7 separate regions of the Homo sapiens genome follow, and regions 2, 3, 4, 5, 6 and 7 are each linked to region 1. The links come from fine-mapping of genetic effects on plasma protein levels. A gene starts in region 1. Each other region holds a variant in brackets. All regions are shown on one strand. Distances are from middle to middle.

Region 1 (4,301 bases):
AGTGGCACGGTCATGGCTCACAGCAGCCTTGACCTCCTGGGCTCAAGCAATCCTCTCACCTCAGCCTCTCATGTAGCTGGCACCACAGGCATGAGCTACCACACCTGGGTAATTAAAAAATTTTTTTTTTGTAGAGACGAGGTCTCACTTTGTTGCCTAGACTGGTCTCCAACTCTTGGGCTCAAGCAGTCCTCCTGCCTCGGCCTCCCAAAGTGCTGGGATTACAGGCATGAACCACCGCACCTGGCCTATGCCTCTGTTTCTAAGTGTCTCTAAGTTTTATGGTTCTGTGACCACTGATCTTCCACCCTGCTTTCCCCCTTGGTGATGAGAAAAGAACATTAATGGAGGGATTGGAAGGACTGAGAGATAAAACTAGAGGCTGAGGGGAGGAGTTCTTTTCAGATCTGACACCAGGGAAAACTTGAGATTTGGAAACATACTACTTGTACTTGGGAGGATGAGGGTGGGCTGTGGAGAGGGCTGCAGAGAGGAATCTGATGGGTGCTGGGTCCCTTAAGGGCATTCCTCCTGCCATAACTCATGTGCCTCACCCCAGAGTCCCCTGCTGGACATTCCACAGCTGTGGGTGGGGCCACAGATCATCTCTCTCACCCTCGGGCCTCTGGTTAAAGTGCTACCATGAGGGTGGGGGTGTCACACATTAACTGGTAGCACCCAAGCACCTGGCAGAGTCAGCTTGCCCTTTTTGACAAGCACGCCCCAGGGGCTCAGAGTCAGTTTCTGGTTAGTGTCAGGTCAGTGTTAGTTTCAATGGGGTTTGAAAAGGCCTGGCTGGGGGTGGGGAGTAGGAGTGAGTCCCTGTCTCTAATCCCCAGGCTGGGGCCTAGGAGGAGGAGCCAGGGTGGTCACTGGATCTCAGAACTGCAGTAGGGGCCAGACTCTGGCCCCACCCCTGCTGGTGTGGCAGCCCCAGGCTGACAGGCCTCTGCTGCAGCCATCCCACCGTGAGTAGGGCTCTGGCCAAGGTACACAGACCCTGGGGCCAGGGTGGGCATCAGACACCAACAAGCAAGGCAAGAGGCTCAGCTGTCTGAGCAATGCAGCCTGGCCTTCCTCCCTCAGAAAACCCCTTGGCCAGACCAGGGGTTCTCTGGGACTAATGGCTCACATCTATTTCTGAGTCCTTATATTTCCCCAGTGCTTCATCCCAACACTAGCCCCAAAGTCAGGCTGCATCCAAGCTTAGCCCTGATCCCAGACTGAGCTCTATCTCCATCATGAGCCCCAGCCTCAGGCTGAGTTCTTATCCCAGTCTGATTTCTAGCCCCTGGCTGAACTCTGACCCCAGGTTGTGCCTCCACCCAGCCCTCAACCCCAGACCTCTCTCGGCTTCTAGGCCCCTCTGGAAACTTTTTGAGGCAAGAGCCCAGTAGGGGAGGGGATGGCTAGGCCATAAGTGAAGCGAGGTGCCACTTTTACAGCCATTTCGGCTGCTCATAAACACCCCCTGACACCCAGCTGAGTCGCTGGAGGCTCCCATGGCAGCTGGCTGGGTAGCCCCCTTCCCTTGCAGCAGAAGCATGGCTGCCTGGCTTTCTTGCCTCTCAGGAAGGTGAAGGGAGGGGCGATGGGGGCACCTGGGGCCAGCAGGCTCTGTCCCAACCAGGGAGCACTCCTAAGGCTCCCAAGGAGCTAGAGGTATGGGCTTTCTGTCCCTGCTGGCCTCATGGTTACAAGCCCCCTGCTGTCATAACACCAGGTCCACAGATGTGTCTCCATGCGGGCATGTCTTGTCTGCCCCATAGCACGGCCCAGGTATTTAGACACTCACCCCCAGGGAAACCACAGACTTGGGCTTCCCAGCTGTGCTCAGGCCCCTAGGCTCCCCTGGCCCCCACTCACCTGCAGCCCATGGGCCTTCCAAGTCGGGCCTAAAGCTGCAGAGCAGACTCAAGTTGGCCACGGGGAGGCCATGGATAGTCCCTGAGCAGCTTCTGTGGCTCAGGCCTAAGCAAGGATAGTGCTGCTGGGGACAAGAAAAGACCTGAGTCAGAGCTTCCACTTGAAAAGAAAATTAATTATTTTTTACCAAGCCCTACACTGGCCCAGGACTTTGTCCCAGGCTCCTAGTCAGGAGTAGGAGGCAACAGAGGCAGATCCAAGTGTGCCGGTGTTCAGATGCCCAGGGCTGGGCCCTCCCCTCAGCACCCATGGGTCTGCCTGCCAGGTAACTGGGCCCACTCAGGCTGCCAGACACGTGTGTGTGCCTCAATAGTCCTCTCCTTGCCCTGCCATGCCTCTCTCTTAGTCTCTGTGTCCCTGTCTAACCCTCTGGTCCTTTCCACATCTCAGGAATATCAGGCTGCCACGAGGTATGAACACAGCCCCTACTAGTGACTTCACTCAAGTTTAAGGCACCCAGAGAAATCAGAGGGGGGCTGGAGGTGGTTCTTGCCTGTGTCACAGGCAGGAAAACTGAGGCCCAAGAAAGCCTGATCTGCCAGCACTGGGTACCCAGTGGCTCCTAGACGGAAGAGATGGAGGGGGCCGTCATTCCACTCCAGCCCGTGTCCTGACCCCTACAGCCCCACAGCCACCTCATATCTGACTCCTTGCCCACTGGAATGTGGGCTCCTGGTGAGGAGTCAGCCAGGAAGCCCTCCCTATCTGCCTCCCAGGCCCTTCCAGGCCCAGGGTCTGCTTAAGCTGTCACAGGTCTCAAAGGCAGGGGGCTGTGGACAGGATGACTTCTCTCTGTGGGTCTGTAGAACGAGCTGTGTTCAGAACCAGGGCTGGTTGCTCAGGATGAAGATGTGGGCAGACAGGGAGGCAGAGACCCTGCAAGATCCCAGAAACCTCACCCCCAGGCCCTGTGACCCGGCTGGAGGCTGCCCTTCTGCCTGAGCCCAGTCTGAGCTGGTTTGTGTCTGGAAGTCCTAGGCTCAGCCTGATGAGGTATAATGATTCACGTGGCAGCTGCCACTCAGCACATTCCAGCTGTAGCCCCCAGTGCCCTGCATGTGAGGCAGCTGGCCCCAACCACCCCCAGCCATTGGGCACATTCCTAGGGCCCCCCTCCCTGGGTCTTCCAGGCTCCTGGGGAGGGTACCACTCATTAGAGTTTCCAAAGTACTTTTTGTTTCACAAGTTAGTCAGGGAGGCAGGCTCGGTGATACCTGGCCTCCAGGTGGAGGAAACGGGACCAAAGAGCAGAATGGACTGGCCAGGGGACATAGTGAAACTATGACAAACAGCACTTATGGGACTCCTGCCCCAGCTACTCTGAAGTGCACTGCTCCAAGGGGTATCCTGGGACACGTAGGCTATTCTGTGACCAGGCCAGCGGAGGTCAGTGGGCAGTTGTGCCCAAAGGAGGGAGAGTTCCCCTGTGCTCTGTCAAGCCTCCCTGTTGCCCTGGCTCTTGACTGCCAGAGCCTCTACCTCCCCTGAGTCCACATGCACTGCCCTACCCTGCCCACAGGCCCCATCCTCACTGGCCAGGGAAGCAGGAGGCTGGGGCCTTTTCTGCTTTGACCTGTGGATCCCTGAGCCAGACGCCTTCCTGCTCATGGCCTCAGTTTCCTGATCTGTTGTTAACAGTTGGGCAGTTTCAGGCTCAAAGGGGATCTGTAAAGTGCCCAGGCACTTGGGTCTTGGATGCAAGCAGACCTGGGAGTCTGAAAACCTGAAGGCCTTTCTCTCCTCGAGCCTTGGGCCTGCCAGTTTGCGTTCCTCCTGTGGGCCCCAGCCCAGGGCTCTGGGGGGCAAGTCTGGCCCTCAGCTCCGGGGACAGGAAGTTGTATTTTGGTCCTGGGTTCTGGGGAAGAGGTAGGGGGAGAATGGCAGCTCAGACCCAGCCATGTTTACTCGGGCCCGGCCCCCTCCGAGCTCAACAGGCTCCCATTCATTGGGAGACCCATAAACCCTTTGGGGCTCCCTGAGGTTCAGAACGCCTGGATGCCAAGGCTGGATGCCGCCCCCAGACCTGCTGGGAGCTGTGGGCAGCAGGTGGGGCATGAGTGAGGCATAAGTGGGATGGTGGGTGGGAGCCTGAGACTCGCCTGAGTTTCCAGGTATTTGCAGCGTCGTAACAGTTCTTGCCCCATGCACATTGTGGAGCAGTTGGGAAATCCAGGGAGGTGGTGGAGGTTGAAGGGTTCCTTCCATGGCCACGAGGCCATCAAAACTGATTTCTCTTAGATCAGGCCCCAGAAGGGTGTCTCCTCAGACTAGGCTCCTGAGGGCATGTCCTCAAATTGCATGACCCTCAAGGCAAGGCTGAGACTGCTGTGTCCAAAGCGGAGCTGATGTCCTTGCTGAGGCTGCATACCTGGCCT
Region 2 (4,301 bases), 70 kb before region 1:
TATGATCCACCTGCCTTGGCCTCCCAAAGTGCTGGGATTACAGGCGTGAGCCACTGTGCCCGGCCAGCAGGCAGTTTTTCATGGTGCAGGGTCATGCGGGACCCTGTACCACATGGTGGACCCAAGTTGCCTTGTATAATCCTCACATGCCCCTGTTAAAGTAGTGCCAGCCCCACTTTGACAGGGGAGGAGACAGAGCCTCAGGGAGGTCCCACCACTGGTAAGCAGTGTGTCCTGATGTTCCCACCACCTGCCCAGTCCAGGGCTGCAGGCTGGGCTTCCTGCATACCACAGTGCCCCTACAGGGAGGACCCTGGAGGGAGTTTGGAGCCAGGCCAGACTTCCCAGAGGAACTCGTCCAGTCTGGCTGCATATGAAGGAAGGGGAAGAGACTGGTCTTTGCCCTGCCCTCTGTGTGACCTTTCAAGAGGTTATTTCCTGCTGGGGCCAGTGTGGGTGAAGTCTCAGGGCAGTGGGAGGGGCCTTTTGCATACTAATGGTTCTGGTTGTTCCCTCTGCTCTCTTCCCCCTCCGTCCCTCTGTCCCCACTGTCACTCATCCTTTAAGGTGACACTTCCTTTGGAAAGCCTCTGTAGACACCTCTTAATGCCACCCAAAAAAACACTGCCTTCCCTGGCTGTTGACACCTTCCCTTTTCCCCTGTGGGTCACCACCCCCTTGAGAATCTGAAGAGCTCCAGATTTCTCATCCACTAAGATTCACCTTCTCACACTCGCCTGTGTTTCTGTCTGGTCATTGACCTCTGGAATCTGTGCACCGAGGATAAGAACCCCTGCCCTGCTCTGTGGGCACTAGGTGCCTACTCGTTCCTCTTCCTCCTCAGTACCCAGCATGGAGTATCTGAGTACAGCATGGAGTACCACAGGGGAGCCAGTCAGTATTTGTCGACTGATAAAGTCTGCTGGAGGAGCTCTGTAGTGCCTCCCTTGAGCACTTGCAGCAAGAATAGGATCAGAGTTGACTTGGGCTGGCTCCCCACACTCCTGACAGACACATGGAGGATATCTGGGCAGGGCCGTGTGACGGGCCTGGCGAGGAGCTGCACTAGGCATGCCGTGGCCTGGCCCTTGAGGTGCCATATGGATGGTGGGGCCCAGCGTGCCTCTCTTCTGAGTGGAGCGGGCCCTCCTTTCCACCGCTGAGGGCACCTTGACAGGTGCTATCCCTTGGCACCAACCTTCGTCAGGCCTTGGGTGTCAAGCCTCACCGTTAGAATGCCTGAAGGCTGCCACACCCTTTCTCTTTGTCCCCTAAGTGCCACCACCTTTTTGTCAAAGGCGCCTTCCTTCCCCCAGTGAGTCACCAGCAGAACCTCAGTTGTTTCTGCTCCTCCCTGTCTCCCCACAGCGTTGAGGCACCTCCTTGTTCTAGTCCACCGCTGTTGACCTAGTTCCCGTCCTTATCTCCAGTCCTTATCTCTAGCCTCGCTGTTCTCCCAGCCTCCCGCTCAGCGCTTTGTTCTTGCTCTGCTCAGAAGCCTTTAGGGAACACATGAACCCACAGGAGAGCAGTGGCTCTTAGCTAATCCCAGCCTCTTGGATGGTAGTCACCACCTGTTCCTGCTGACTCTTGGTGAAGCACTGAATGGGGAATCAGATCTGTCTACACTGCACAGATCATCTGACGTCATCTCCTAATGTCTTGGTGAAGCAGGTATTACAACACTGCCCTGTCTGCTTACAGGATTGCTGAGAACATCTGATAAGGATGATGGGCATGGGAGCTTCCCATGACCTCTGCAGAGGCACACCGTTCTGGGCCTGTGCCCCGCTGGCTTTTCTGCAGCCCTTTCCTTCCTGCCCTGGCCTGATTCTCCCTGTTCTTCAGGCTCCCTAAGCTGCAGGCTTTTCTCCTTCATCATTTCCTTGTAATGGTGATATGATGTCAGTATGATTATCCTCATTTTTGTAGATGAGGAAACTGAGGCCAGACAGGTCATATAACTTGCCCAAGGTCACACAGCCAAGATGAAATGGAGCTGGGATTTCCCCGCTCCTGTGCACTCCTCTACCACAGTGCTGTGCCTGCTGTAGTTGGTGTCAGGCCTGTGGGTGCAAACTGGTACAACAAA[C/T]GTCTGCCCTCTAGGAACTCTTGGTCTGGTCAGCAGATAGAGTGGATACTCGGACCAAGTCATCCTAGCAGCACATTGAGTGCAGGGGACCCAGAGTGAGGAGCTCTGCAGCCTGACGAGATCTCAGCCTGCCCAGGAGAAGCAGAGTCTCTCCCCCTTTCCCCCTGCCAGTCTCTGGGCAGTAGAGATCTGTGCAGTTTCTGGTCCCAGGCATGGTGGTGTTCAGCTCACTTCTTATCACTCCATCTTCAGGGTGAGTCAGACTCCGGGTGACTGCCCTACCCGCTAAGTGCCCTTGGAACACAGCTCCCACCACGGCAGCACCCGACAGGAAGTCCCTCCACCCCGGCATGGGGCTGCAGTGGCCCTGAGGATGGGCACAAGGTGACACTGGGGAGCCTGCCAAGTTTGCCCCAGCATTGTCTGTCTCTTCCTGTCACCTTCAGGCACTATGTGCCCATCTCTTTTGCTTTTTTCCCCACCCTGGGCCCAAATCAGAACTGGAAAGGCTCAAAGTGGGGCCAGTTTGGCCTCTTCTTAGGGGGCTAGGATTTCGAGGTCTTATTTTCTCTTTAACTTTTGAACAGAGGGCAGTTTCCCATGGACATTATAGCAGGCGTACTCAGAGCTAATGGGGCATATCACCTGGGGATTGGAAAGTGTTTCTGTACCCATGAGTTCCTGGTGAGTCTCTAGCTTCTTCAGGAAGCTAAAGAAGGGTGGGAAGACCCTAGATGAGAAGTTGAATGTCTCTCTCTTAACCCTTTCCTGCTTCTCTTATTTCCTTCTGGAAGGGAGAGCTCTAGTCAGCAGCTCCTAAAAGTTTGAGTCCTTGGGAAGTCTTAGGGAGAGGGAGGGGCTTATTCCTCATCCCCTGAACTCAAGTCCTCCTGCTTCGGCACACCCGCCCCCAGTGACAGTTCCCAGCCCTCATTTTAACTTTAACCCCCCTCCCAAACACAGACACACAGACAGCAGCAGGCTGGGGCAGGTCCAGGCTGGGAGTGGAGGATCTCACCTGACTTCTGGTCTTCCCCGTTCCTCCCATGACACATCTTGTAGGCTACCACAGTGCCCGTTCAGGGTGTCGGCCCTCATGCTGGGCTCAGCCCTCCCACGGTGCTGGAGGAATGCCCTGTGAGCCCTGCCCCTGACAGCATCAGGTGAGGCTGGGCCAGCCATGTGGGCCTGCTCTGCAGGCTGTGACAGTGCTCTTGCTCCGCTCTCATGTCTTTGTAGGCAGTTACCACTCCCAGGAATGCTCTGCCTTCTTTAGCTGCCTCATAATCCCCCAGTGGACATTTAGAATTGAGTTTAAGCATTACTTCCTTCCCCGACAACACCTATCCCTTGCTAATTCCCTAAGTGTACAAGATATTTAGTAAAGCTTTCCTTACTACTCATGGCACAGAGTTACATTTTCTAAGTCTGATCCTTTGAGTAGACTTGAGATTCTTGACGATAGGGTTCTTACTTTATCTTTGTGCCCAAGGTAGACCTGGCCCACAAAGGAGACTGAGGGGTGCAAGGAAAGAGATCTTCATCTTACTGTGGGTGGGAAGGGGCAAGAGGAGGACATAGAGCAGCCTCTCTTCTTCCTCCCTCCTCCTGTAGGCCTGGTTGTTGATTGACCTGCTTCTAGCAGTGGTACTACATTCAGACAGCAATGTGGATTGATTCTGCCCCCACGCTTCATGTGCCATCCAGAGGCAGGTGTACTCATCCATTGAGGGATCCTTCCAGAGAGAGGTGACTGAGGAGCAAAGCCATTGTTGAAACACCGAGTCTGAGGAGATGAGATGGAGGCACGTCCCAAAATTGATAAACCTCTAGCTGGTCTGATAAAGAAAAATGACACAAATTATCAATATCAGTGAACATCACTACAGATCTTACAGACATTAGGCTATTAAGAGAACAATATAAGTCACTTTGTGCCAGTAAATTCAATAACTTAGGTGAAACAGACATCTTGAAAGACATAAATTAATAACACTGGCTGGAGAAGAAATAGAAAATCTATACAGTCCTATAACAAATATTTTCCCAAATAAAACTTCAGGCCAAGATTGCTTCACTGAAGTCTTGTTGAACATTTAAGGAAGAAACAATACCAACTTTGCACAGCTCTAATTTTATTTGTAACAGTTTTGTCCCTGATAAAAAGGATTTCAAACATTAGGAAACAGGTCAGTCAGACTCTGTCCTG
Region 3 (4,301 bases), 1.7 Mb before region 1:
AGAGACTGAGACAGGGCAGGGTGCCGAGGTGTCTGCATGCGTTTCATGTGGATGCCCGTGTCTATTCTGGCCTGCTCCTGGGCCCCCTCCCCACTCAGCCCTGGCTGATGAGAATGGGACAGGGACTCCCTTCTCGTGTCCCTGTGCAGCGTCGGCCCAGGAGGTAGCAGAGCAGTATATGCACATCTGGGTGTGCCCTCCTGCATGTCCCCACACATCTGTCATTCCTGTCTTTGCACACCTATGTGACTCCCGCATGTTTGTGTCCTTATGTGTCCCATGCATGCTCCCCATCTGACCTTGCGTGTTCTCGCGTGTCTGTGTGCGGCCAGTCCTGCCTTCACTCTCTCATGGGTGGCCCTGGCAGCATGTCTGGCTCCCCAGCAGGTGAGCTCAGGAGATAAGATGGAAGATGCAACAGCCAATGGTCAAGAAGACTCCAAGGCCCCAGATGGGTCCACACTGAAGGCCCTGGGCCTGCCTCAGCCAGACTTCCACAGCCTCATCCTGGACCTGGGTGCCCTCTCCTTTGTGGACACTGTGTGCCTCAAGAGCCTGAAGAATGTAAGGACGGGGGCAGGCCAAGGCCCCTCGAGCTTCCACACTGACCCTGTAATTTGCCCTGAGAGCACTCCCAGCCTCTGACTCCCCAAACCCTCAAAGCTCCCCTTCTAAACTCCCTCCCCAAGCCTGCCCGAGCCCCCCTCTGAGTCCCTGAGCCTCCCTCTGAGGCTGGCCCCCTTTTCCGCTACAGATTTTCCATGACTTCCGGGAGATTGAGGTGGAGGTGTACATGGCGGCCTGCCACAGTGAGTAGGGTGGGAACAGCAGGAGGGACCTGGGAAGAGGGTAGGATACTTTTGGCCAAGGGGTTTTCCAAGTAGCACAAGGAAAAAGTCTTTCTCTGGAACTGGAGGTCAGAGGTGTCCTGGGAGACAGGAGTCCAGGGTTACAAGTGATGTGGATTCAGCTGTAGCCTCAGGGGTGGAGGTCAGGGGTGATGAGGTCAGGGCATTCTGTTGGCTCCCGGGAGTTGAGTTCCTAGAGGTTCTGAGAGTCAGGGGAGGCCTACTTCTTGCCCACAGGCCCTGTGGTCAGCCAGCTTGAGGCTGGGCACTTCTTCGATGCATCCATCACCAAGAAGCATCTCTTTGCCTCTGTCCATGATGCTGTCACCTTTGCCCTCCAACACCCGAGGCCTGTCCCCGACAGCCCTGTTTCGGTGAGCCTACCTCTGGCCTGCCAAGCTCTTTTTTGTTAATCTATTGCTTGTCCCCACCCTGGCCCCAGCTCCAGGGAGTCTTTCCTGGTGGCCATGGCTCTGTCCCCAGTGGGCCCAGTGCTTTCTCCGCTGTCTTTGGATAAAGCTGTTCTAGGGGCGGGGGTTGGTCTGTGTCCTTTGGAAACTGACTAGAGCCTCCCCTCCTCTGCCTGCTCAGGTCACCAGACTCTGAACATGCTACATCCTGCCCAAGACTGCACCTCTGGAGGTGCAGGGCACCCTTGAGAAGCCCCTCACCCCTAGGCCGCCTCCAGGTGCTACCCAGGAGTCCCCTCCATGTACACACACACAACTCAGGGAAGGAGGTCCTGGGACTCCAAGTTCAGCGCTCCAGGTCTGGGACAGGGCCTGCATGCAGTCAGGCTGGCAGTGGCGCGGTACAGGGAGGGAACTGGTGCATATTTTAGCCTCAGGAATAAAGATTTGTCTGCTCAACTCCAGTCTCTGCTGTGGCTTGGTGGGGCCCTGGTGGTGGGTGGTCCACAGCTGTGGCTGCTGACCCTTCCTGTGCCCTGAAGGTGAGACGGGGCAGAAGGTGTAGGAAGGACTCGGGAGGTTAGGGTACAGAGCAGGGGAGCTGTGGAGGCATCCCCTGTTAAGGTCTCTCCCCAGCCATGCATAGCCCTCACTCGCTGTCTCCTCAGATGTGAAACAGTTGGAACCAGAGCTGCTTCTCAGGAATAATTTGCTCTCAGGAATACCCGAGAAGGTACAGGGCAGCGTGGGTGCCAATGGGCAGTCCCTGGAGGATACAGAGTGAACACCTAGGAGCAGCTGTTCCCCCACACTGCTGCTCTATGCTTAAGAATAAGCATGACCGGGCCGGGCACGGTGGTTCACACCTGTAATCCCAGCACTTTGGGAAGCAGAGGCA[G/A]GTGGATCACTTGACATCAGGAGTTCAAGAACATCCTGGCCAACATGGTGAAATCCCACCTCTACTAAAAATACAAAAGTTAGTCGGGCGTGGTGATACATGCCTGTAATCCCAGCTACTCGGGAAGCTGAGGCATGAGAATCGCTTGAACTTGGGAGGCAGAGGTTGCAATGAGCCCAGATCATGCCCCGCATGGGTGACAGATCACCTGGGCATGGTAGAACACTGTCAGCCAAGGAGTGTGTGTTGATTTCTGCCATTAAATGCCGACATCTGGGCATGTGACCCAGCAGGCAGTGGGGCGTTGGGTCAGCTGACAGTGATGGCAGGGGAGGGACCGGGTCTTAGGATCTGTCTGGGCCTCAGTGTGCTGTTCATCGGTAGAGCGTGAGTGGCTACAATTCTTGCTTCAGGGGTTGCTCAGTGAATATTAAATGAGTAGATGCCGGGCCTATAATCCCAGCACTTTGGGAGGCCCGAGGCAGGTGAAACCCCATCTCTACTAAAAATACAAAAATGAGCTGGGCATGGTGCTGGACGCCTGTAATCCCAGCTACTGGGAAGGCTGAGGTGGGAGGATCAATTGAACCCAAGAGGCGGAGGTTGCAGTGAGCTGAAATCATGCTGGAGGGAGCTGCACTCCAGCTCGTGTGACAGAGCAAGACCCTGTCTCAAAAATAAATGAGGAAATGCCAGGAAATGCGAAAACAATGCTGGGCTCAGGTCCTCTCCTCCAAACATGCGAGCACTGCTGTTCATCAGGTGCTGAGCAGGTGCCAGGCTCTGTGCAGGGGTCTGGGCACCATCCTGAGCATGGACAGAGGCCACCCTGCCCTTCAAATCGCAGAGGTACCCTTGCCTGGCTCTGTTTTATCATGGTCTGTATTGGTGCCTGGCACCATCACCCCCCACCCCCCAACTCATGGCCTAGAAGTTCAGCCCCAGGAAATAAGAGCTTTTATTTACTCTGTCACACCACGTCCTAGCATCAGAAATGGTGCCTGGCAGCTGCTCAGTAAATATTGTTTGAATGAAGCTTATATGTTGGAGAGGGCAGTTTAGACCTCAAACAGGAAATTGCAGGTAGTTAGAAATGCTTTGAAGAAAATAAAGCAGGGTCACGTGATAGAAGAGGTCATATGTTACCCAAGATGCTCATGGGAGGGGGACTCAGCAGGTGACCCTGGAACTGAAATTCCAGCCATAAGAAAGAAGGTGACTTTCTAGGCCTGGGGAGCTGTGGTGCTGGCAGTGGGGGTATTGAGGCAGGCCTGTGGGAGGCAGGGGCAGCATGAGCTGAGGTGAGAGGGTGGGGGGACCTCACAGTCCAGGGGGAGACTTTGGGCTTTGTTCTGACAGCGGGGGAGCTGCCTGTGGATTTTGATCCCACATCTTTGAGCACTCACCCAACTGCGATGTGGACTGTGGGGCTGCGGTTGGGTGTGGGGGACCTGCGAGTTTGGTCAGCCTAGAGAGGTGATGCCCCTGGTGGAAAGCAAAAGGTTTTAGGGGCCGTGTGGATTTTTTTTTTTTTTCTTTTTAAATCGGCTCTTGCTCTGTTCCCCGGGCTGGAGTGCAGTGCTGTGATCACCACTCACTACAGCATTGACCTCCTGGGCTCAAGCGATCTTCCTGCCTCAGCCTCCTAAGTAGCTGGGACTACAGGTACATGCCACCACACCCAGCTAGTTCCCCCACCTCCCCCCACCCAAGACGGAGTCTCGCTCTGTCGCCCAGGCTGGAGTGCAATGGTACGATCTTGGCTCACTGCAACCTCCACCTCCTGGGTCCAAGTGATTCTCCCACCTCAGCCTCCTGAATAGCTGGGATTACAGGCACCCACCATCATGTCCAGCTAATTTTTGTATTTTTGTAGAGACGAAGTTTCACCATATTGGCCAGGCTGGTTTTGAACTCCTGACCTCAAGTGATCCTCCTGCCTTGGCCTCCCAAAGTGTTGGGATTACAGGGGTGAGCCACCGCACCCAGCCCCAGCTAGTTTTTGTTTGTTTGTATTTTGAGATGGAGTCTCGCTCTGTCGCCCAGGCCAGAGTGCAGTGACATGATCTCAACTCACTGCAAACTCTGCCTCCCGGGTTTAAGTGATTCTCCTGCCTCAGCTTCCCAAGTAGCTGGGACTACAGG
Region 4 (4,301 bases), 1.2 Mb before region 1:
CCCTGGGCAGGGTTTTTCTCACCTGGGTGCCCCAGAGAGAGAAATCAGGCTGCACACCCCTCTGCTGATTGCTTGGGATTCCCCACTGACATCAGTGCTGATCTCTGGGCAGGTTCTGGGGTGGTGATGCATGCCAGGAGAAATGCTTGGAGGTGGCTTTCACCCAGATTGTTTGGACAGGGAGGGGAGTAGCCTGTTGTAATGCAGAAGGTAGATGTGTGCTCCTAGCTATGGTCTCATGTGCCCTGAGTTCGTCTCTTCTTTTTTTCTTTTTTTCTTTTTTTTGAGACAGAGTCACACAGGCTAGAGTGCAGTGGCGGGATCTCGGCTCACTGCAACCTCCACCTCCCAGGTTCAAGTCATTCTCCTGCCTCAGCCTCCCAAGTAGCTGGGATTACAGGCATGCGCCACCAAGCCCAGGTAAGTTTTGTATTTTCAGTAGACACTGGGTTTCACTACACTGGCCAGGCTGTTCTCAAACTCCTGGCCTCAGGTGATCTGCCTGCCTCAGCCTCCCAAAGTGGTGAGAGTACAGGCACGAGCCACCGCACCCAGCCCTGAGCTCATCTCTTCTGACCCACTTGCCCCTTGTGCTGGACGTTCCAGGCCAAGAAAGGGTGCTGACCAAAGGCCATAGGCCTTCTCTCTCCCTTTTTTTTTTTTTGAGATGAGGTCTTGCTATGATTTTTTGTTTGTTTGTTTTTTTGTTTTTTTGAGATGGAGTTTCACTCTTGTTGCCCACGCTGGAGTGCAATGGCGCAATCTTGGCTCACTGCAACCTCCACCTCCCAGGTTCAAGCGATTCTCCTGCCTCAGCCTCCTGAGCAGCTGGGATTACAGGTGCCCACCACCAAGTCTGGCTAATTTTTGTATTTTTAGTAGAGATGGGGTTTCACATGTTGGCCAGGCTGGTCTTGAATTCTTGAGCTCAGGTGATCCGCCCACCTCAGTCTCCCAAAGTATTAGGATTATAGGCGTGAGCCACCATGCCCGGCCAAGGGGTCTTGCTATGTTGCCCAGGCTGGTCCTGAACTCCTGGATTCATGGAATTGGCCTGCCTCAGCCCCCCAAAGTGCTGGGATTACAGGTGTGAGCCACTGTTCCAGGCCTACTTATCTTTTTTTTTTTTTTGAGACAGGGTCTTGCTCTATCACCCAGTCTGGAGTGCAGTGGTACAATCATGGCTCCCTGTAGCCTCGAACTCCTGGTCTCAAGTGATCCTCCTGCCTCAGCCTCCCCAGTAGCTGGGGCTACATGTGCATGCCACCAATCCTGGCTAATTAAAAAAAAAATTTTTGTTTCCTTAAAGATGGGACCTCGTTTGGTCTCAAACTCCTGGCCTTCAGTGATCTTCCCATCTGTGCCTCCCATAGCGCTGGGATTACAGGTGTGAGCCACCATGCCCAGCCTACCAAAATTTTAGAGAAGTGAACAAAAAGTATTGAGAGGGCTTAATGCTTGCATTTAAACGCTAACACTGAGGGACTCCAGAAAGACAAGCTGGCACTTCAAAAAGTGCCACTCTTTACTTCTTTGAAACCCTACCCCCTACTGAGTCTTAGACAGGATGAGGTCTGTTGGGTAATGTGATTTGATTCATTTACTTAGCACACGTGTGGGTCTCTCTTATGATGAGCATCAGGTACAGGGTTACTAATATTATTTGCTTTGCTTAATAAAGGAATAATTTATATACAGTGAAAGGTAATATGTATACAACTCAATTAATTTTAACTACATATATATTAATTTTTTTTTTTTTGAGATGGAGTCTCACTGTATCACCCAGGCTGGAGTGCAGTGGTGCGATCTCAGCTCACTGCAACCTCCACCTCCCAGGTTTAAGCGGTTTTCCTGCCTCAGCCTCCCAAGTAGGTGGGATTACAGGCATGCACTACCAATCCTGGCTAATTTTTGTATTTTTAGTAGAGACGGGGTTTCACCATGTTGGCCAGCCTGGTCTCAAACTCCTGACCTCAGGTGATCCTCCCACCTCAGCCCCCCAAAGTGCTAGGATTATAGGCGTGAGCCACCTTGCCCAGCCTTAACTACATATACATTAATTTTAACCACTACACTCTGTAGGTGTTTACACCGTAGACATTAGTGCCAATTGCCTGGGATTTCCCACTGACATCATTGCTGTTCTCTGGTTCTGGGGAGATGTGTAGTACCTAGATAAAGAAAGTTCAATGGCCAGGTGCATGGTGGCAAACACCTGTAATCCCAGCTACTTGGGAGGCTGAGGCAGAAGAATCGCTTGAACCAAGGACGCGGAGGTTGCAGTGAGCCAAGATCGCACCATTGCACTCCCACCTGGGCAACAAGAGTGAAAGTCCATTTAAAAAAAAAAAAAAGGGTCGGGCGCAGTGGCTCACACCTGTAATGCCAGCACTTTGGGAGGCCAAGGCAGGCGGATCACCTGAGGTCGGGAGTTTGAGACCAACCTGACCAACATGGAGAAATCCTGTTTTTACTAAAATACAAAAAATCAGCTGGGCGTGGTGGTGTGCACCTGTAATCCCAGCTACTCAGGAGGCTGAGGCAGGACAATTGCTTGAACCTGGGAGGCTGAGGTTGTGGTGAGC[C/T]GAATCGCACCATTGCACTCCAGCCTGGGCAACGAGAGCGAAACTCCATCTCAAAAAAAAAAAAAAAAGAAGAAGCAGAGAGGTAAACAGGCCCATATAGGGTAAGCACATTCAGAGAAGTAGGGGCAGAAAGTGGGAGAAGACCCCAACAATGTTGAAGGACATTTGAATGGGGAAATGAGCAAACAAAGTTTACATGTACAATCTCCAGCGCACTTTAGCCGCCCCACAGAGCTCACAGAGTTCTTGTGGGACAGTCCACACCCATCTGAAAAGCTGTATGCCAACACCAAGTGGCATTAGAAAGGTCTCACCATCTGCAGGGCAGAGACAGTATCTGCTGCTATGGTCAGTGGGGGGTCTCCCCAGGCCTCAGCTCTCCTGCGTGGCTTCTGATGCCTGCTGAGCACCATACCAGGCGCATTTAACCTTCTGTGTATACACCCAGCCCCACACTATGGGCCTAATAAAAGCTCTGAAATAATGCAGCTCAGATGCCACCCCCAGGAGGCCTTCCCTGACTCTCTTGGGGGAAAAGGGCTCATGTCCTCTTGCTATGTGCTTGCCAGACAGTGAGCACCCCCTGCCCTGGTCTGAGCCACTTCAGATTTCTCAACAGCAGGCAGCACTGGGTCTTGCCTTGGTTCTTGGTTTTGCTGCCAGAAGCCCACAGTCCCTTGGATACATGGCACTAGGGCAGGACTGCTGGATCCCCACAGAAAGCTGGATCCCTTGGAGTCCCACTCAGCTGAAGAGCCCCTGAGTTCTGAGCAGATAAACCTTCTTGCCCTCATGGTCTGTGGTGATTTAAAATATGCCTGCAAATTCTCTGCTATTTCCCCTTTCCAAGGTGGAGGCTGATTCCCTTTCCCTTGAAAGTGGGTCAGACTTAAATGACTCGCTTCTAGTGCACAGAATGTAGCAGAAGTGATGCTATAGAAGTGACTTCAAAGGCTTGGCTGTGAAGAGGTTACAGCTCCCTCCTACATCCTGACTCTTGGATCACTCACTACATGCTTCAGCCTCCCATGTAGCTGGGACCGCAGGTGCATGCCTCCATGCCCACCACTCACTCTAGAGGAAGTCAATCTCCACATCATAAGGACCCTGAAGCAGCCCTGTGGAGGAGCCCACCTGGTGAAGAAGCGGGATCTCCTGCCAAAGCCAGCATCAACTTGCCAGCCCTGTGAGTAAGCGACCTTGAAAGGGAATCCCCTGGCCTCAGCCAAGCCCTCAGATGATGCAGCCCTATCCAAATGCGATTGAAATTCTTGAGATTTCAAGCCAGAACCGCCCAGCCAAGCCATTCCCAAATTCCTGATCTGCAGAAACTGTGAGAGATAATCAATGTTTATTGTTGTAGTAAGCCGCGAAGATTTGAGGTAATTTGTTGTGAGGCAATGAATAACTAAGATTTTCCTTCTGCCCATTGTCCCTCTCCAAGCTCCCTACACTCCAGCCAAACTGAACCACTGACCAAAGCAACAAATTTTAGGCCCGGTGCGGTGGCTCATGCCTGTAATCCCAGCACTTTGGGAGGCTGAGGTGGGCAGATTACCTGACGTCAGGGGTTCAAGACCAGTTGGCTAACATGGAGAAACCCCATTTCTACTAAAAATACAAAAAAATAGCTGGGCGTGGTGGCGCATGCCTGTAATCCCAGCTACTCAGGAGGCTGAGGCAGGAGAATCGCTTGAACCCGGGAGGCAGAGG
Region 5 (4,301 bases), 590 kb before region 1:
TGCCTGGCCAGCTGTTAGAATTTTGATAGGGATTGCATTGCATTTTGATATGGATTGCGTTTGTAGATAGCTTTGGATAACGTTGTCATTTAAAGAATATTGTCTTCCCAGCCTGGCCAACATGGTGAAACCCTGTCTCTACTAACAATACAAAAATTATCCAGGTGTGGTGGCATACACCTGTAATCCCAGTTACTCAGGAGGCTGATACAGGAGAATCGCTTGAACCTGGGAGGCGGAGATTGCAGTGAACCGAGATTGTGCCACTGCACTCCAGCCTGGGTGACAGAGCAAGACTCTGTCTAAAAAAAAGAAAAAAAAAAAAGAATATCATCTTCCAATCCATGAAAGTGGGAAAGTGGGATTTCTTTCCCTTTATTTTACGTCTTTAATTTGTTTCAGCAATGTTTCAGTTTATGTCTTTTGTCTCCCTTGCTTAAATTTATTCCTAAGTATTTTATTCTTTTTGATGCTATTATAAATGGAATGTTTTCCTAATTTTGTTTTTAGATTGTTCACTGTCAGTGAACAATAGAAATGCAACTGATTTTTGCATGTTCATTTTGCATCCTACAACTTTGTTGAATTCATTTATTAGCTGTGTGTGTGTGTAATCTTTAGGGTTTTCTACATGTAAGATCATGTCATCTAGGAACGGAAATAATTTTACTACTTCCTGTCCAGTTGAGATGCCTGGAGAGAAAGGGTAAATGAGGCAGTGAGAAGGTTCTTGCTTAATTTCTCTGGCTAAAACTTTTCAGTACTGGATTAAATAGAAGTGGCATCCTTGTCTTGTTCCTGATTTTAGGGGAAAAGCTTTTAGTCTTTCACCATCAAGTGTGATGTAAGCTGTGAGATTTTCATATATACCCCTTTATTATGTTGAGGATATTGCCTTCTATTCCTATTTCATTGAGTATTTTTTAATCAAAAAGTTATCTTGAATTTTGTTAAATGCTTTTTCTGCATCAGTTGGGATGATCATTGTTTTTCTCCTTCATTCTAGTAATGTGGCATATTACCTTAATTGATTTTTGTTAAACCATCCTTGCACTTTGGGAATAAATTCCACTTGTCATCTGAGATGTATGTTTAATATCTACTTTAAAAAAAAAAACACAAATCAGTCCCAGCCTGGGCAACATAGTGAGACCCTCATCTCTACAAAAAATAAAAAAAGCCTGGTGCAGTGGCTCACGCCTGTAATCCCAGCACTTTGAGAGGCCGAGGCAGGCGGATCACCTGAGATCAGGAGTTCAAGACCAGCCTGACTAACATGGTGAAACCCCGTCTCTACTAAAAATAGAAAAATTAGCCAGGCTTAGTGGGAAGCGCCTGTAATCCCAGCTACTCAGGAGGCTAAGGCAGGAGAATTGCTTGAACCTGGGAGGCGGAGGTTGCAGTGAGCTGAGATCATGCCACTGTACTCCAGCCTGGGTGACAGAGCGAGACTCTGTCTCAAATAAATAAATATTAAAAAATAAAATAAAATAAATTAGCCAGATGTGGTGGCTCATGCCTGTAGTCCCAGCAGTGTGAGAGGCTGAGATGGGAGGATCACTTGGGAGGTTGAGACCGCAGTGAGCCACGATTGTACAACTGTATCCAGCCTGGGTGACAGAGCAAGACCCTATCTCAAAAATAAAACAAAAAACCAAAAAACTTAGAAGTCAACAGATGCTTATTGAATTCTTCCTAGGTGTCAGACACTGTTAAAGTTCTGGGGATTCAGCAGTGAACAAGGC[T/G]AAGCCCCTGTTTTCTTTTAATTTTTAATTTTAGTTTTTTTTTTAGGGACAGTCTCACTTTGTCACTTAGGCTGCCAGGCTCGAGTGCAGTCATGCATTCTCAGCTCACTGCAACCTCTGACTCCTGGGTTCAAGTTATTCTCGTGCCTCAGTTTCCCATGTAGCTGGGATTACAGGCACTACCACACCCAGCTAATTTTTGTATTTTTAGTAGACACAAGGTTTCACTATGTTGGCCAGGCTGGTCTCAAACTCCTGACCTCAAGTGATCCGCCTGCCTCTGCCTCCCAAAGTGCTGGGATTACAGGCACGAGCCACCGCACCCCGGCCCACTGGAGTGTTTTGAGCAGGGTAGTGACATTAGTGATTTGTGCTTTAGAAAGATTTATCGAGGATGGAATGAGGCAGGAATGAATAGAGGCATTCCTGCTGTCCCCATGGTCAGTGATGGGAGAGTAGCCAGGGAGATGATGATTGTTGGTCAGGTTGGGGATCTGACTTGGAGGTAAAACTGTTGTAACCAGCTGTTTCAGATGTGGGCTTGTTGTAGGATGTTTCCTAAACTTTCCGCCGGAGGAATAAACAGGGTAGCTAGTGGTATAATTAACTGAGATGGCTGGGAAAGAACAGCTACTGTGGGGAAATCAAGAATTCTGTTTTTGGTCTTGTTAGATTTGAAGTGCTTATTAGGCATTTGAGTGGAGATACCAAGTGGAAATAGTGTAAATAAGGAGCTTAGGGGAGAGGCTTGAGAGGTGTGTATGTAAGAGACATCAGCAAACAGATGAGAATTGGAGCCAGGAGTCAGGCTGAGAAGCCCTGGGGAGAAAGGGTAGATGAGGAAAGCAGGCCAGGAACAAAGCCTATGGGGAAGCAGGAAGGGAGGCTGAGAAGCACAACCTTCTAGGACATCAGTAGGGACATGATGTCACTCACAACTAGGAAATAAGTAGGTGTTTTCCTTTCTTTCTTTCTTTTTTTTTTTTTTTTTTTTTGAGACGGAGTTTCGCTCTTATTGCCCAGTCTGGGGTGCAATGGCGCGATCTTGGCTCACTGCAACCTCCGCCTCTCAGGTTCAAGCGATTCTCCTGCCTCAGCCTCCTGAGTAGCTGGGATTACAGGCATGTGCCACCACGCCCGGCTAATTTTTTGTATTTTTAGTAGAGACGGGGTTTCACCGTGTTAGCCAGGATGGTTGTAGGCGTTTCTCATTTCAGCATAGTGTCTTTATGGTCAGCCCTTTCAGTGGCTGCCTCTGATGGTGTTTGATCATAAGTCATAACTCATCCATGAAGGTGTTTTACAGTCTGTCTTCAAGCAGGCAGGTCCTTAGATTGAAAGAATGGAGGCTTCACTGCGTGTGCCTTTACTACACAGATAGCCGATGGGGCAGAGGTTGTATAGCTGATGGGGCAGAGGCTGTCAGATGACTGTTTTACAGAAAAACCTTTGACAAGTTATATAGTAAACTTGTTAAAAGAAAAAGTTGATCTCCTAGCTAAGACAAAAGGTTTCAGTTTAGGAAGATAAAAAAGATGGATGGTGGTGATGGCTGCACAACAATATGAATGTACTTAATACCACTGAACTGTACACTTAAAAGGGGTTAAAATGATGTTTATGTTAATAATTTTTTTTTACCACAAAACGAAGTAGAATACTTTGTCACTGATTATAGTAAACATTTAAATCTGAATGCTAGATTGCTTTTTTTTGAGATGGAGTCTCACTCTGTCGCCCAGGCTGGAGTACAGCAGTGTGATCTCAGCTCACTGCAACCTTTGCCTCCTGGGTTTAAGTGATTCTCCTGTCTCAGCCTCCCAAGTAGCTGGGATTATAGGTGCCTGTCACCATGCTCGGCTAATTTTTGTATTTTTAGTAGAGATAGGGTTTCACCGTGTTGCTCACGCTGGTCTCAAACTCCTGACCTGAAGTGATCTGTTTGCCTCGGCCTCCGAGAGTCCTAGGATTATAAGAGTGAGCCACCGTGCCCGGCCTAGACTGCTCTTACATAGGTTAAAACACATTATTTTGTTGGGAGGTGCTGGGGAATCAACTCTGTCATGGAAATGTTCCCCGGGCTGGGAGTTGGAACCAGAGTGTTGATTGTTGTCATTTGCTACATGACCTGGGTCATCTGGCATGACCTTCCCTAAGCCTCAGTTTCTTCCTTACCAATAGGATATTGTGCTGGAGGATCCCATCTCTCCTAGCTCTGAAATCTGGTAGCTTTCTGTTCCTTTGTCTCTATAAATGTCTGGAAGGCAAGCAAGTTCCAGTCTGAGAAGTGACTGTGAACATTTGGAAGAATTGTGTGGTCCCAGTGCATATCACAGTCCACAGTTGTCCTGTTAGCTGGAAAGTTTTACTTAGTACCAGATTATAGATATGAAAAAGAAGCAATTAAAACTTACAGCAGGCCTTACAATTTGAGACAGAAACAAAATCTTTGTTTTTTAGACTTTGACCAAATATTTGGGAATGAGCACCATGTAGATGTGATTTGTTTATCTGTGAGGCTTCACACATTGTGACTTGACAAGAACCCATAGCACT
Region 6 (4,301 bases), 600 kb before region 1:
GTGTCTCAAAAAAAAAAAATGTTGTGGGAGAAGCCCAAAAATCATGTCCACTTCATTATATTCCATGGGGGGCATTCTGTAGCAGATTTACCAGGGCCCCATAAACCCCAGCTTCCCCAGAGGCTCCACAGGATTCTCAGTGGGTTCTCTTAGGGCAGTGGAGGATTGTTTGCCATGCTTCAAGGCACAAAGGTACTTAGCTAGGTGCTTGTCAGTTTTGGAGCCTCTTATTTTTTGTGGGGGAGTGTCCAGACTTCACTGAGGGTCAGTCCTCTGCAAACACAGCTTTGATGGAGTGGTTGGGTGGGAAGAGGTGGTGAGTGAGGAGAATGACAGCAGTTCCCAAGGCAGTCTGGCTAAGTCCTGCCATGGAGGTGGTTAAAAGACAGGCTCCTGACCCTCTCTGGAGAGAAGACTTTGGTACAGTGGGCCCAGGGCTCAGGAGGACTCCTTCATGCCCAAGGTTTCTGAGGGGACAAATGATGGTATTTCAAGGGATCAGACCTGGAGAGAGTGATGTCAGGATAGGTAAGGGGTGTAGGTAAGTTCCCCTGAATGCTCTCTATTGTTGCTTCTCTCTCATTTAATACAACAAACAGGATGGGCACGGTGGCTCATGCCTGTAATCCTAGCAGTTTGGGAGGCCAACATGGGAAGGCTGCTTGAGCCCAGGAGTTTGAGACCAGCCTGGGCAACACAGCAAAAGACCCCATCTTGATAAAAATAACAAAAACAAAAATGGCATGGTGGCGCTCATCTGTAGTCCTACCTTCTTGGGAGGATCACTTGAGCCCAGGAGGTTGAGGCTGCAGTGAGCTATGACCACACCACTGCACTCCAGCCTGGGTAAAGGAGTGAGACCTCAAATGTAAAAATAAAAATAACCTAAAAAATTCTTTCTTTCTTTTTTTTTTTCTTTTTTTTTTTGAGACGGAGTCTCGCTCTGTCGCCCAAGCTGGAGTGCAGTGGCATGATCTCGGCTCACTGCAAGCTCTGCCCCCCGGGTTCATGCCATTCTCCTGCTTCAGCCTCCCGAGTAGCTGGGACTACAGGCACCTGCCACCACGCCCGGCTAATTTTTTTTTTGTTTGTTTTGTATTTTTAGTAGAGATGGGGTTCCACCGTGTTAGCCAGGATGGTTTCGATCTCCTGACCTCATGATCTGCCCGTGTTGGCCTCCCAAAGTGCTGGGATTACAGGCGTGAGCCACCGCGCCCAGCGAATACTTTCTTTATAGGATCAAAATTCCCATATTAAGCCAAAAGACAATGCTGAAAATGTCATAACCCTGAAAGTCACTTTGGGCCAAGGCCCACTGTCCCCATTGTTACTTTCATTGTGACAATAGTGTGGTGGGCAAGGAGGGAGGCCAGAGTCCGGTGGGAACTGGGTTTTAGGAGGAGGTATCTGAAGAATGTGTAGTGGGTCGGGGGCTGGTGCGGTCAGAAGGGCCACCTCTAATTTCTGCCTTGCATTGGTGACTAGATCTGCACTTTCTGGAACTCCCAGAGAAGTTTGCTGGTGCCTTTGAGGGCAGGTACAGGGCCTGCCTTATCCAGGTAGCCCTGGGGTGGGTGCGGGTGTCTCGGGCAGTAGGCAGGGGCTGAGGGGAGGCTTACCTCTGACACAAGACCTGGGTACAGCAAGGGCATGCAGTAGCATGATCAAAGTCCCCCCAGAGTGGTCCGGGCAGCGTCTCTAGTTGGGCCAGAGCTGGGCAGGTGGG[G/A]ACCTGTGTTTCCCTCGAGGGGAGGCAGCCTCCCCTTCCCCTTCTGTGAGGCCCTGTAACAAGACCTACCTCGGATTTTCAGGAGGGCCAAATGCGAGGACATGTACAATACCAGCTCCGCAACTGACACCTAGTAAACAGTGAACGTAGCTGTTGCTATTATAACAAATACCTGTTCCCTGTGGAAAATGGTTAAATGTCAACTTATGCTTTTAAATGTCTATAGGGAAACTAGTTTTATGGACATTATTTATTCTTCTCATCTGCATTTGCAGTGTATCTCGGCCCAGCTGCTTCTAATTTTTTGCCATTATAAAACAGGGAACATGAGCATCTTGTGCAGGGTGGGTTTTTTGTTTTTTGTCTCACTGTGGCCTCGACCTCCCGGGCTCAGGTGATCCTCCTACCTCAGCCTCCTGAGTAGCTGGGACCACAGGTGCGCGCCACCACAGCCGGCTAATTAATTTTACTTGTGGAGACGGAGGTCTCCTACGTTGCCCAAGTTGGTCTCTAACTCCTCGGCTCAAGCGATCTTCGCGCCTTGGACTCCCACAGTGTTGGGATTACAACCGCGAGCCACCGTGCCCGGCTTTCTGCAAGTTCTTGATGACCGATGAGAGCCGGTGGGCCCAAACCCGGCGGGCCCTAACCCGGCTTCACGCTCCGCCCGGCCCGGCCCGGCCCGGCCGTCCATACTTCCCTCCGGTGTCCACCAGAGGGCGAACGGGAGACGCGAATGTGGTTCGACTACGCATGCGCACGCCGCTGGGCGCACGTGCGGAGGGCGGCGGGGCGGGAGGGTAAAGGTAGGAGGTGAGAGGTGAAGGGGCGGGCACCCGGCGGCCAGGAGAGAGAGGGAGGGCGCCACGCACCGGACTGCGGGCCGAGAGCGCGCACGCCGCGCTCCGCCCCTGCTGCCGCCCCCGTCGCCGCCGCCGCCGCCGCCGCAGCTTGGGAGGTGCTGCCACCACAGGTACCGTCACGCGGGTGCTCAGGGCGCCTGCCCGCGGGCCCCAGCTCGACCCCAGCCGCGTGGAGCTGGGAGTTCCGGAATGGGGGCCGCTAGGTTCGGGGGTGCGTGGGCATGGCGCTGTCCAGCAGCCGTGCGGGCCGGCCCTGGAGACCGCAGGCCGGCAAGGAGGCAGGGCCGCGCGTCCCCACCCCCAACCCGGCCGTGTCCCTGCACCGGCCGGCCCCTGGAGCTCCGCGTCCCCACCAGACCTCCGCGGGCCCCTGGTGTGACGGGGGGAGATGCGCGGCGTCGCATCCCCTGGCCTAGTTGCTCCGGGAAGCTGTTGTAGAACCTGCTTTGGTGCTGTTTGGGTTTTCCGGAGTGCGGGGGAGAGCAGGTTCTCCACTTTGCCTCTTTTGGAAGATCTTATTGAGAGACAACGCTAGTTGCTTTGCTGGTTTTGCTTGGTTTCTAGTTTTCCGTATTGCTTAAACCTCAACTTTGCTCACTAATGTTGCTTCTGTTTACTTCTGAGTGGGTTTATGACCTCAGTATTTAACCGGCTTATAATGTCACGATAGCGTTAGTTGCAGGGAGCCCTGGCTCCGGACTGTTTGAATCACAGAAAGTTGTGCAGATGGGAATGCGGAGGGGGGGGCAGTGAGTCGCTGTGGGGGCTCTGGCAGGGGTCAGCCCCTGGTTCGGGTCACTCACTGCTCCACCTTGTATGGCGACAGTCGGAGCTAGGTGAATAAACTCTTTCTGGGGATTTTGTAATACTTATCGTGAAGCGGCCATAGAAAAGGTTTAATGTTAGCGTTGCGTGTGTTTCTTTTATTTGGCCAAAAATTTGTGGAGTTTGGTTATGCCGTGTCTTTATTGGTTTGCTGTCAGGTCAGGATATTGAGCAAAAGACTGACGCTTTTATTAGGGAGTCAGGGTCGAGGGTGTCTAGTTAGTGCTGTATCCATTTTAGGTGTTCCTCAGTGATGCCTAAAGACTTGTTTTTTGTTTGTTTGTTTGGAGACAGGGTCTCACTCTGTCTCCCAGGCTGGAGTGCAGTGGCGCGATCTCGGCTCACTGCAGCCTTGATTTCCTGGGCTCAGGTGATCCTCCCACCTCAGCCTCCCCAGTAGCTGGGACAGCAGGTGTGTGCCACCACGCCCGGCTAATTTTTGTATTTTTTTGTAGAGATGGGGGTCTTGCTGTGTTGCCCAGGCTGGTCTTTAACTCCTGGGCTCAAGCATTATACAAGCCTTGGCCTCCCAAAGTGTTGGTATTACAGGCGTGAACCACCGTGCCCGGCCAAGACCTGTATCTTTTAAAATGTGTGTTAATATAGTTTACATTTTAGGTGTTTTACACATTTGCAGTATTCCCACTGAGCACATGATGTAAAAAACACTATATAAATATATTTAACACTGTATAAATATATTTCCATATTTATTCTTTTGGTCATAAATTGAAATGGAAAGAATTAGGCTTTTTAAATTTATTATGAACTGATCTGATGTTTGAATGCTCTCTCTTTTCTTTCTTTCTTTTTTTTTTTGAGATGGAGTCTCGCTCTGTCGCCCAGGCTGGAGTGCAGTGGCGCCATCTCGGCTCACTGCACCCTCC
Region 7 (4,301 bases), 120 kb after region 1:
TTCTTTCAGCACTTTAAATGTGTCACCCAACTGCCTTCAGACTCCATACTTTCTGATGAGAAGTCAGCTCATAATCTTATTGGGGATTCCGTGTATGTAATGCATTGCTTCCTTGTTGCTGCTTTGAAGAGTCTCTCTTTGTCATTGTCTTGCAACTCTTTGCTTATAAAATTTTGAAATGTGCATATTTTCAAGTTTATTTTATTTGGAATTCATTGATGTGTAGATTCATGTTTTTCATCAAATTTGAGACATGGTAGGCAATTATTTCTTTAGATATCTTTTCTTCCCCCTTTCTCTCCTCTTTGCACAGAACTTCCATTATATGTATGTTGACATACTTAATGGAGTCCCACAGGTTTTTGAGGCCCTGTTTATTTTTCATCATTATTTTACTTTTCTGTCTTCCAGAGTAGATAATCTCAAGTGACCTATCTTTAAGTTCACTGATTCTTCTGCCAGCTCATGTTTACTTCTGAGCTCCTCCTGTGAATTTTCATTTCAGTGTTTGTAATTTCCAACTCTAGATTTTCTATTTAAAAAAATCATTTCTCTTTGGTAATATTTTTATTTTGCGAGATGGCATTTTCATACTTTCCTTACTTCTGTAGACAGCATACTTTAGTTCCTCAAACACATTTAAAATAGCTTACTTAAATTGTTTGTCTAGTAAGTTCAACTTCTGGGCTTCCTAGTGGCAGTTTCTTTTGACTTTTTTTCCCTGTTTTCCCACCCTTGGTACAGGCCATATTTTTTTGTTTCTTTGCATGTTACATAATTTTTTTAACAGAAACAGTTTAAATACTATATGTTGTAAGTATGGGAATCACATTCTCACCTTCCTCAGGTTTTGTTATTGTTTTGTTTTGTTATTGTTGCTATTTGTTGTTGCTGCTGCTGTTTGTTTGGTTAGTGACTTTTCTAAACTAACTCTGTAAGCCTCTTCTTTGTCATATATGGCCATGAAATCTCTGCTTGTTAGCTTTAGTGCTCAGCTAATAATTAGAGATTTTCTTAAGTGCCTTAAATCAACAAATTTTCCAGCCTGTGCTAAGGAGCTCTGTTTGTTGGGGCATGTCTACAACACTTCAGTTTGCCCTAGCATTCTTAGTTTTCATTTCTGACATGCATAGACATGTCAGAAGGCTAGCTGGAGGTGAGAGATTAGGGTCTTCTCAGGTCTTTCCTAAATATACATACAGTTCCAACATCTATGTCATATCTGAGTCTAGTACTGATTATTGCTTTTTCTTAGACTGTGTTTTTTTTTTTTGCCTTGTGATTTGCCTTGTAATTTTTGTTGAAAGTTAGACATTCTCCATTTCTGTTACTGTATCAGGAGATAACTAATATAAATATTTTCTATGCTTGGAGAAAAACACAGGCTTCCTTCTGCTTGGTGGTTATTACGGAGATTTGTGATACTCTAATCGGGAGTGGGCTGTGCTTTAATTTGTTGTTGTAGCTACCAGAGTTGAATTTTTTTGTGGCTATGGGCACCAGAGATTTAAAAGTCTGTCAGTAATACCTTGTTTTTGCCTCCTCCACTTGGCTTTTGGTCTTCTCTTTGTGCTGTTATCCTGGAGAACTTTGTAGCTCTTGCAGCTGAATGTGATACTATACCACTTCACGTTTAGGATAAAAAACTTATGACATATTTCTTTTTTCTTTCTTTTTCTTTTTCTTTTTTTTCAATTAGCTTTCT[C/T]AGGTTGAAAACAACATATTTCCCAGGCGCAGTGGCTCACGCCTGTAATCCCAGCACTTTGGGAGGCCGAAGCAGTGGATCACCTGAGGTCAGCCTGGCCAACCTGGTGAAACCCCGTCTCTACTAAAATACAAAAAATTAGCCGGGCATGGTGGTGGGCACCTGTAATCCCAGCTACTCGGGAGGTTGAAGCAGAAGAATTGCTTGAACCCGGGAGGCGGAGGTTGCAGTGAGCCGAGATTGTGCCATTGCACTCCAGCCTGGGCAACAAGAGCGAAACTCTGTCTCAAAAAAAAAACACAAAAACAAACAAACAAAAAACGCAAAAAAAACCCCAACCACACACACACACACACACACACACACACACACACACACACACACACACACACACAATGTATTTATATTTCTCTCTCTCCCGATCTTTGTGCTACTGTCATACATCTTCTTGCATACGTGTTACAAACCTCACTGTACATTGTTATTTTTGTTTAAATAGTCAATTCAATTATCTTTCAAAGATATTTACATAAAAGAAAAGTATCTTACATATTTCCCGTGCAGTTGTCTTTCCCAGCACTCTTCATTTCTTTATGTAAATCCAGATTTACGTCTGGTTTAGTGTTCCTTCTGTCTGAATGACTTTAACTTTTTTATAGTGCAGATCTGCTGGTGATAGTCTTTCATCTTATGCATGCCTGAAAAAAATCTGTATTTTGCCTTCATTTTTGAAATAAAATTCTAGAAGTTTTTTTCTTCTAGCACTTAAAAAATGGTGCTTATCTGTCTTCCTGCTTGTACAGCTTCTGATGAGAAATCTACTGTCATCCTTATCTTTATTCTTCTGTACTTACTTTATCACTGGTTTTAAGCAAGTTGATTAAGTTGTGCTTTGGTTTAGTTTTACACACACACACACACACACACACACACACATACTTGTTATATATATATATATATACACACACACATATATATACTTTTTTTTTCGATGGAGTCTCTCTCTGTTGTCCAAGCTGGAGTGCAGTGGCGCGATCTTGGCACACTGCAACCTCCGCCTCCCGGGTTTAAGCAATTCTCCTGCTTCAGCCTCCCAAGTAGCTGGAACTACAGGTGCATGCCACCACATCCAGCTAGTTTTCATGTTTTTAATAGAGACAGACTTTCACCATGTTGGCCAGGCTGTTCTCAAACGCTTGACCTCAGGTGATCTGCCCACGTCAGCCTCCCAATGTGCTGGGATTACAGGCGTGAGCCACCACTCCTGGCCTGGTTTAGTTTTCTTCATGTTTCTTTCTTTGGTGTTCATTGAGCTTACTAGATTTGTGGGCTTATAGTTTTTATCAAATTAAAAACGTTTGAACATTATTTCTTTAAATATTTTTGTCCAAATACTCACACATTAGGACACAGCTCACTGATGTTCTCTCTCTCTCTCTCTTTTTTTCTTTTAACACTCTCTGTTTCATTTTGAATTTTTTTTTTCTTTTTTGAGATGCAGTTTCCCTCTTGTTGCCCAGGCTGGAGTGCAACGGCGCAATCTCGGCTCACCGCAACCTCTGCCTCCTGGGTTCAAGCAATTCTCCTGACTCAGCCTCCCGAGTAGCTGGGGTTACAGGCATGCACCACCATGCCTGGCTAATTTTTGTGTTGGTCAGGCTGGTCTGGAACTCCCAGCCTCAGGTGATCTGCCCTCCTCGGCCTCCCAAAGTGCTGGGATTACAGGCATGGGCCACTGCGCCCGGTCAAATTTTTTTTAATTGTTAGGTTTTCAAGTTTACTAATCTTTTCTTCCACAAAGTTTAATATGTTACTAATCCCGTGAGTGTGTTTCTGACATACATGGTAGTTTTCATTTTTAGAAGTTTGATTTGGGTCATTTTTCATCTTAGATATCTCTCCTGAACTTTTTGAATATATATGTATATGTATAACTTAAAGTTATAATGACTGTTTTAATGCCCTTGCCTGTGCATTTAACATCTGTGTCAGTTTGGAGAGGATAAGATTAATTGATGATTCCCCTCATAATCAGTTGTATTTTCATGCTTCTTGCATGTTGGGTATTCTTTGATTGGATACTGGACATAGTGACTTTTACCTTGTTGGCTGTTTGATATTTTCATATTCTCATAAATATTCTTGAGCTTTGTTTGGGGATGCATTTAAATTACTTGGAAACTGTTTGATCTTTTCAGATCTTGCTTTTAAGATTTTTTAAGCAGGACAATTCTCAGTCTAGGCCTAATTATTCCCCATTGCTGAGGCAAGACCTTCCTGGATACTCTACCCAGTGCTCTGTGAATCTTGAGTTTCTTTGTCCAACTAATGGAAGCAGGCTCTATTCTTGGCCCTGTGTGAGCACCAGGCATTGTTACTTCTAATTCTTTTCAGTGGTTATTTCTCTAGCTTCAGGTCGTTTCCTCACAGACATGCACTGACCAATACTCAGTTTAATACTCAAGGGGGAGTATTTGTGTTGCTATAAAGGAATACCTGAGGCTGGATAATTTATAAGAAAAAGAGGTTTATTTGGCTCATGGTTCTCTAGGCTGTAAAGAAGCATGGTGCCAGCATCTGCTTCTCATGAGAGCTT

Alleles and levels. Positions count from the first base shown, and alleles are read on the strand shown. Strength reflects both the effect of a copy and how common the allele is.
As copies of T replace C in region 2, the plasma level of the protein whose gene starts at base 1,989 in region 1 goes down (moderate association).
With allele A in place of G in region 3, the plasma level of the protein whose gene starts at base 1,989 in region 1 is higher (moderate association).
As copies of T replace C in region 4, the plasma level of the protein whose gene starts at base 1,989 in region 1 goes up (strong association).
In carriers of allele T in region 5, the plasma level of the protein whose gene starts at base 1,989 in region 1 tends to be lower than with G alone (strong association).
For the plasma level of the protein whose gene starts at base 1,989 in region 1, G is the high allele of the variant in region 6 and A is the other (moderate association).
For the plasma level of the protein whose gene starts at base 1,989 in region 1, allele T in region 7 goes with a higher level than allele C (moderate association).

The links. PIP is the chance, under the fine-mapping model, that this variant and not a neighbour inherited with it causes the effect. Protein levels are from antibody-based Olink assays in UK Biobank. Linkage for the fine-mapping came from a reference panel and not from the study's own genotypes, which makes the PIPs less certain.
Region 2: its variant is fine-mapped to the plasma level of the PTH1R protein (UK Biobank, PIP above 0.99).
Region 3: its variant is fine-mapped to the plasma level of the PTH1R protein (UK Biobank, PIP 0.98).
Region 4: its variant is fine-mapped to the plasma level of the PTH1R protein (UK Biobank, PIP above 0.99).
Region 5: its variant is fine-mapped to the plasma level of the PTH1R protein (UK Biobank, PIP above 0.99).
Region 6: its variant is fine-mapped to the plasma level of the PTH1R protein (UK Biobank, PIP above 0.99).
Region 7: its variant is fine-mapped to the plasma level of the PTH1R protein (UK Biobank, PIP above 0.99).

The regions. Positions count from the first base shown.
Region 1 is chr3:46,875,409-46,879,709 of GRCh38, reverse strand. It overlaps PTH1R (parathyroid hormone 1 receptor), which reads right to left and starts at 1,989. Exons shown (of 16, transcript NM_000316.3): 1 at 1,867-1,989. It also overlaps a transcript of MYL3 not described here.
Region 2 is chr3:46,945,511-46,949,811 of GRCh38, reverse strand. All of the region lies in intron 1 of CCDC12 (coiled-coil domain containing 12), which reads left to right. Among named protein-coding and RNA genes, the nearest start is that of CCDC12, 29 kb to the left of the region's middle. RefSeq lists a silencer at 1,279-1,573. The variant C/T (reference allele first, on the strand shown) is at 2,093.
Region 3 is chr3:48,623,139-48,627,439 of GRCh38, reverse strand. It overlaps SLC26A6 (solute carrier family 26 member 6), which reads left to right. Exons shown (of 21, transcript NM_022911.3): 18 at 385-564; 19 at 755-809; 20 at 1,086-1,222; 21 at 1,440-1,717. The coding sequence ends at 1,454. Among named protein-coding and RNA genes, the nearest start is that of TMEM89, 3.5 kb to the right of the region's middle. The variant G/A (reference allele first, on the strand shown) is at 2,157.
Region 4 is chr3:48,124,771-48,129,071 of GRCh38, reverse strand. No RefSeq gene overlaps it. Among named protein-coding and RNA genes, the nearest start is that of CDC25A, 61 kb to the left of the region's middle. The variant C/T (reference allele first, on the strand shown) is at 2,589.
Region 5 is chr3:47,461,193-47,465,493 of GRCh38, reverse strand. All of the region lies in intron 1 of SCAP (SREBF chaperone), which reads left to right. Among named protein-coding and RNA genes, the nearest start is that of SCAP, 13 kb to the left of the region's middle. The variant T/G (reference allele first, on the strand shown) is at 1,746.
Region 6 is chr3:47,474,197-47,478,497 of GRCh38, reverse strand. SCAP (SREBF chaperone) reads left to right here and starts at 2,557. Exons shown (of 23, transcript NM_012235.4): 1 at 2,557-2,699. It overlaps LOC105377073 (a long non-coding RNA gene), which reads right to left and starts at 2,553. Exons shown (of 3, transcript XR_940821.3): 1 at 2,134-2,553; 2 at 1,796-1,856. RefSeq lists a silencer at 2,470-3,009. The variant G/A (reference allele first, on the strand shown) is at 1,727.
Region 7 is chr3:46,760,150-46,764,450 of GRCh38, reverse strand. No RefSeq gene overlaps it. Among named protein-coding and RNA genes, the nearest start is that of PRSS50, 44 kb to the right of the region's middle. The variant C/T (reference allele first, on the strand shown) is at 1,706.